2 separate regions of the Homo sapiens genome follow, and region 1 is linked to region 2. Evidence: fine-mapped expression QTL. A gene starts in region 2. The other region holds a variant in brackets. All regions are shown on one strand. Distances are from middle to middle.

Region 1 (2,907 bases), 25 kb after region 2:
CTGAGTGGCTAGAAAAAATATTCACCATGTGAAATCTCTTTTTGTTTTACTTGAAAAATAAAGGGTTTTTAAAAATTTAATCAGCTGGGTGCAGTGGCTCACACCTGTAATGCCAGCACTTTGGGAAGCCAAGGCAGGTGGATCACCTGAGGTCAGGAGTTTGAGACCAGCCTGGCCAACATGGTGAAACCCTGTTTCTACTAAAAATCCTCCCAAAATTAGCTGGACGTGGTGGGGTGTGCCTGTAGTCCCAGCTACTCGGGAGGCTGAAGCAGAAGAATCGCTTGAATCCGGGAGGCAGAGGTTGCAGTGAGCTGAGATCACACCACTGCACTGGTGTGATCATGGGTGACAGAGCAAGATCCTATCTCAAAAAAAAAGAAAAAAAAATCAGAGGCTTTTATCTAGCCCTTGTAAAAAGCAATGTAGACTTCACTTAGCAAATGAAATTAGGCTTTTTTAGAATTGGGTCAAAATAATATACATAAGGGAAAGTGGGTTGTTTTGTTTTGAGACAGAGTTTTGCTCTTGTTGCCCAGGCTGGAGTGCAATGGTGCGATCTCGGCTCACTGCGACCTCTGCCTCCTGGGTTGAAGCGATTCTCCTGCCTCAGCCTCCCGAGTAGCTGGGATTACAGGCATGCGCCACCACACCCGGCTAATTTTGTATTTTTAGTAGAGACGGGTTTTCTCCGTGTTGGTCAGGCTGGTCTGGAACTCCTGACCTCAGGTGGTCCGCCCGCTTTGGCCTCGCAAAGTGCTGGGATTACAGGCATGAGCCACTGTAACCAGCCCAAAAGTGGGGTTTATAGGTGGCAAAATGACAGCAGAGAGCTGTTTTCGTATCTCTTAATGAAAATCACAGGAGGATAGAGTGACAGATTGTTCTGGGGCAAAGGGGGCAGTTCACTACCCTGGTGAAATGGGTGAAATGTCACTTTGGTTGGTGGGTCAGTCAGCATGTGGAGCACAGTGAGGACTACTGCATGCTCCTAACACACTGCTCTCAGAGTATCAACTGCGACGGTAGTCCCACGAGGTAAAATCAGTTTGGGAAATGGGTTCTTCACGGAAATTCAAAAGGAAATTTCAGAATATGAAAAGTGCCAAGTCCTTCAGTTAAAAAGCCTGTTTAGGCTGGGCGTGGTGGCTTATGCCTGTAATCCCAGCACTTTGGGAGGCCGAGGCAGGTGGATCACGAGATCAGGAGATCGAGACCATCCTGGCTAACACGGTGAAACCCCGTCTCTACTAAAAATACAAAAAATTAGCTGGGCGTGGTGGCGGGCGCCTGGAGTCCCAGCTGCTTGGGAGGCTGAGGCAGGAGAATGGCGTGAACCCAGGAGGTGGAGCTTGCAGTGAGCTGAGATCATGGCACTGCACTCCAGCCTGGGCGATAGAGCGAGACTCCATCTCAAACAAAAAAAAGCCTGTTTAAGTCACCACCGTTTTCTAACCTTTCTGACTGTTGACACTTATTTTGAGAAGCCTACCTGTTTTGCAAGCACTTTCTGTGTTTTATAGGTGCGTTTAATGACAAACTAATACCCTAATATTGGGTAATTTTCCAGGGTTGGCATTATCAGGTAGGAGATAATAATTAACAGTTAGATGATTTCACATTGATTGTTGCTACAAAACACTGTACTAACTGGACGACCGACCCCCTGTAACTGCAGGGAGTCTATGAAAGTGACTTCATTTTATTAAATGAAACAGGAGTGGGCCGGGCGCAGTGGCTCACGCCTGTAATCCCAGCACTTT[A/G]GGAGGCTGAGGCAGGTAGATCACCGGAGGTCAGGAGTTAGAGACTAGCCTGACCAACAGGTGAAACCCTGTCTCTACTAAAAATACAAAATTAGCTGGGTGTGGTGGCGCGTGCCTGTAATCCCAGCTACTAGGGAGGCTGAAACAGGAGAATCGCTTGAACCCGGGAGGCGGAGGTTGCAGTGAGCCAAGATCACGCCATTGCACTCCAGCCTGGGCAATGAGAGTGAAACTCCGTCTCAAAAAAAAAAAAAAAAGCGCAAACTCAAACAGCTGTGCCAGTCAGCTGACAAGCATTGGTGTTAAGGAGTCCATTGGATGGTTCCCATGTTTTTTGTTTTGTTTTGGGGTCAACCGTGCTGTCACCCAGTCTGAAGTGCAGTGGCACAGTCATGGCTCACTGCAGCCTCAAACTTCAGGGCTCAAATGATCCTCCCACCTTGGCTTCCCAAAGCACTGAGATTACAGGCATGAGCCACCACCATATGTTTTGAATATGTCACCATAATTAACCAAAACTATCTTCTTTGGTCAAGGTCATATTGCCTTACATGTTGCCACATCTGGTGGTTGACATTCGGTGTTCATTGGACCTCTTGGCAGCACTGATTACTTAACTCCTTCTTGAGATGCACTTCATGTGCCCTCCAGGAAACCACATTTTCTCCTGAACTTCCTATTTCTCTGGCTTTTCTCATGTGCGCTGCTGGGACTTGTTCTTTTTCTAAAACTCTAGATGTTGAAGAATCCCAGGGCTCAATCTGTCCATCTCTACATTCATTCCCTAGCTTGTGTCATTTTAGTCCTATGACTTTAAATACTTCTTTATGTGACCACAAAATTTGTATCTTCAGCTTTGACTTCTCTTTTAAACTCTAGACTTCTATATCTAACAGCCTTCTTGACATCCAAGATTGCATCATAAGATGATCATGTCCAAAATAGAACTCAGAATGTCTCCCCATGGCCTTCCAGAGTTAAATGGCTTCATCATGTACCCAGTTACTTAGGTCAGATTCCTTCAGGTCATCGTTGATTCTTTTTTGTTTGTTTTTTTGAGACGGAGTTTCACTCTTGTCACCCAGGCTGGTGTGCAGTGGCGTGATCTCACTTCACTGCAACCTCTGCCTCCCAGGTTCAACCG
Region 2 (2,907 bases):
GATTCTCTTCCAAAAGCCTACAAAAGGATGACAGAATCACATTTCACTCAGTGAGTTCAATTAACTATACATTCAATTGTGGGGGCAAAAATAAATGACACCACGATTTACTGGGTATCTACTATGTGCTAGGTAATGCACTAAGTACATTATGCTCTATACTTCATTTAATCCTCTCAGCAATGCTGCTCATTATCGTCATTTTACATGAGGAAACTGAGGTCCAGAAAGGTTAAGCAACTCACTACAGGTCACACAGCTAGTAAATGGCCTCGAATAACCAGTAACTCAGACACTGACCTCTCTTTGGTTTCTTGTTAAACAAACACCTAATTTATTTCTTGGAGGTTTTGTTCAGCTGTCCTAATTTATGACTTTACATTCCTTCTGGTGCTAAACTGCTCAAGTAGCCTCTTGTATCAAGTGTGACCTGATTCCTTAAGAATTTTACTTAATGAGAACCTCTAAGCTAGAAACTCTTGCTAGGTGTTTCATGCACCTTATTTTCTTTAATCATTACAACAACTCTAAGATTGGGTTCTCTCCACCTTATAAATGATGACTGTTTTAGAGAGGTTAAGGTTGCTTAAAATTGGTGAGTTAGTGAGGGGTAGAGCCACGAATGGATTTCTGGTCGCTGCCTCCATCGTCAGGGCAAGCTTTTCCCACGACTCCAGCGCTTCCATTTGTCAGTCCCCAGGCTAGAAAGCCACAGTGCTAATTTAGTATTTATCAAGCGTTTGTAGTGTCCTGGGATCTGGCACTTCGATGAGAAAGCTGTGACGGCCCCAACTTCTAACAGCGAGTGGTAAGGAGGACGAGGGACACAGGAGGGAGGAGACTCTCCCCAAAGCTTAGCACCAACAGAAGTGGTCCCCCGCAGGTTGCTCTGCGAGCGCCACCTCTTCCCTCCAACCGAGGAGAAAGTGGCGCGCCTTTGAGGAGTCCGAGGTCCCGGCCCAGGCGGCAGCTTGGGTCCTGGCGGGTTCCGGACGGGCGCCTCAGGGACCTGGAAGCAACCGCACCGAACGCGACGGAGAGCGGCGAGACGACTCCAGGAGGCGCCCGAGCTACATCCCCCGGCCACACCAAACCCGGGTTTGCTGGCAGACGCGGCTCACGACACCCCTTAGGGTCGCAGCCCCTCCCCCGGAAGTGACGTGTAGCGACTACGGCGTCTGGGAGGGACCCAGGAGCAGTCGGGGGGTTTGAGAGTGGCGGCGGCCGCGGAGGGCCTGGCAGGCCCCGCCGCTGCAAGGAACGCCCCGAACGCGCGCGCCCGGCGTGTAGCGGCCCCAAGACCCGCGCCGCCGCTGCCGCGTGCGGGGGCGGGGAGGGCGGGGCGCCAGGAGCCGCGGCGGCGGGAGATGCGGGCGGCTGCGGGCACCCGGCGGGCTCGGCTTGGCCGCCGCCGCCTTCTACGGCTCCGCCGCGGGGGTCGCAGCGGCTGCCGCGCCGTCCTCGAGTTTCCAGCGTGAGGAGGAGGCTGAGGGCGGAGAGGCGCATCGTGTTCGAGGCGGAGACCGAGGGGGAGCCCCGCGCGCGGCGTCGGTGAGCGGTCAGCCCCGCGCGCCCCCTCGGGATCTCGCGGCCACAGCCCCACCGGCCGGGAGCGGGGGCGGGGGCCGAGGGGCGCGCGGCACAACAGGAAGTGGGGGCGGGGGCCGGGGCCGGGCGCGCGCGCTCCCCTTGGGTCCGCCCCCGGCCCGCCGGGCACCGCGGCGCACAGGTGGACGCCGCAGCGCACCGCTCAGCTCTCGTCGCCTCTTGGTCCCCCGAAGTCTCGTGGGCGAAAGGTGGCGGCGATTTTTTCGGCGTGGATGGGGAGGAGGGGAGCAATTCTCATTTTCTGTAGTGACAGGAAGTTGGAAAATGAAAGTACAGTAATTCAGTGCTTACCAAGGCCCGGTGAGGTTGCACCTCTTCCCCCAGACTTTGATCTCCTGTAGGGCACACGCGGCCGTCCGCGTTTCTTCCTCTCCCCTAGCTCGCTAGTCATCCGGTGTCGAGTTTCATTTCTTTTTCTCTTTCGCTCCAGCGGCCCCCCGCCCCTCTTTACTTTCCGCCTTGTGCACAGCTGCATCGAGGCTGGTAACTTCATTCCTGGGAAGATCAATTGGAAACATCTTTCGGGGCGGGATAGTAACTGGCCTTGGAAGGAAATAGGGATGTTGTTGACTGAAGTAGTCAAAAGTACACACTTCACTTTTTCTCCAGCTATTGCTATTTGAAATTTGGGGAATTTAAATAAAGATTCTGGAGTTCTATGCCTCATCAGAATGGTTTGTCCATCTCTTTGGTTGATAGATCAGATCCTCTGTCGTCTTTTCCCACCCCCTACACCCCCTGGCTTGGAAAACTTGGTGCTTCAATATTTAGGTTTGGCAGCGGTGTTTTCATTAAAATGTAGTATGATTCAATATTTTCCCTTCAGGAACACTCTTCTCTTTGATTTTACTTAAACATTAAAACTGCGTAAGTGGAATCTGTTCATTCCTAGTGAGGTAGTGTCTTTAAGTTTTATTGTAAGAATATTGTAAGAACTGTGCAGGATCCTATACAAAGAGTATTTTTTAGGAGCCTGTGTAGTTAAAAACGTCATGTTACTTTTGGTTACTTTTTGACAACGGTGAGTATTTTGATTCGAAACTAGGCTTGATACATTCATAACTTGGTTTTTTAAGTAGCAGGCTGAAGAAAATTTGGAGACTTTGTGTTTTTTTGGGTCTTAGCTACTGTCTCTGAAAAATAGTTGGGCTATGGGTCACCACAGCAACTGGACTGTGTGTATTATAAACATGTTTAGGGTGGAAAAGGTTTTATTTAATAGAGACTTCCTTTCCTTAATACATTACTTCAACATGCTCCCTTTCAATTTAGGACAGGGATTGGTCTATCTTTGAAGTG

What was found. PIP is the estimated chance that this variant, and not a neighbour inherited with it, causes the effect.
Region 1: its variant is fine-mapped to the expression of ELK4 in fibroblasts (GTEx, PIP 0.99).

What each region holds. Positions count from the first base shown.
Region 1 is chr1:205,604,784-205,607,690 of GRCh38, reverse strand. No RefSeq gene overlaps it. Among named protein-coding and RNA genes, the nearest start is that of ELK4, 26 kb to the left of the region's middle. The variant A/G (reference allele first, on the strand shown) is at 1,764.
Region 2 is chr1:205,630,276-205,633,182 of GRCh38, reverse strand. ELK4 (ETS transcription factor ELK4) reads left to right here and starts at 1,172. Exons shown (of 5, transcript NM_001973.4): 1 at 1,172-1,551. RefSeq lists enhancers at 785-1,094, 1,705-2,124 and silencers at 1,265-1,414, 1,505-1,694.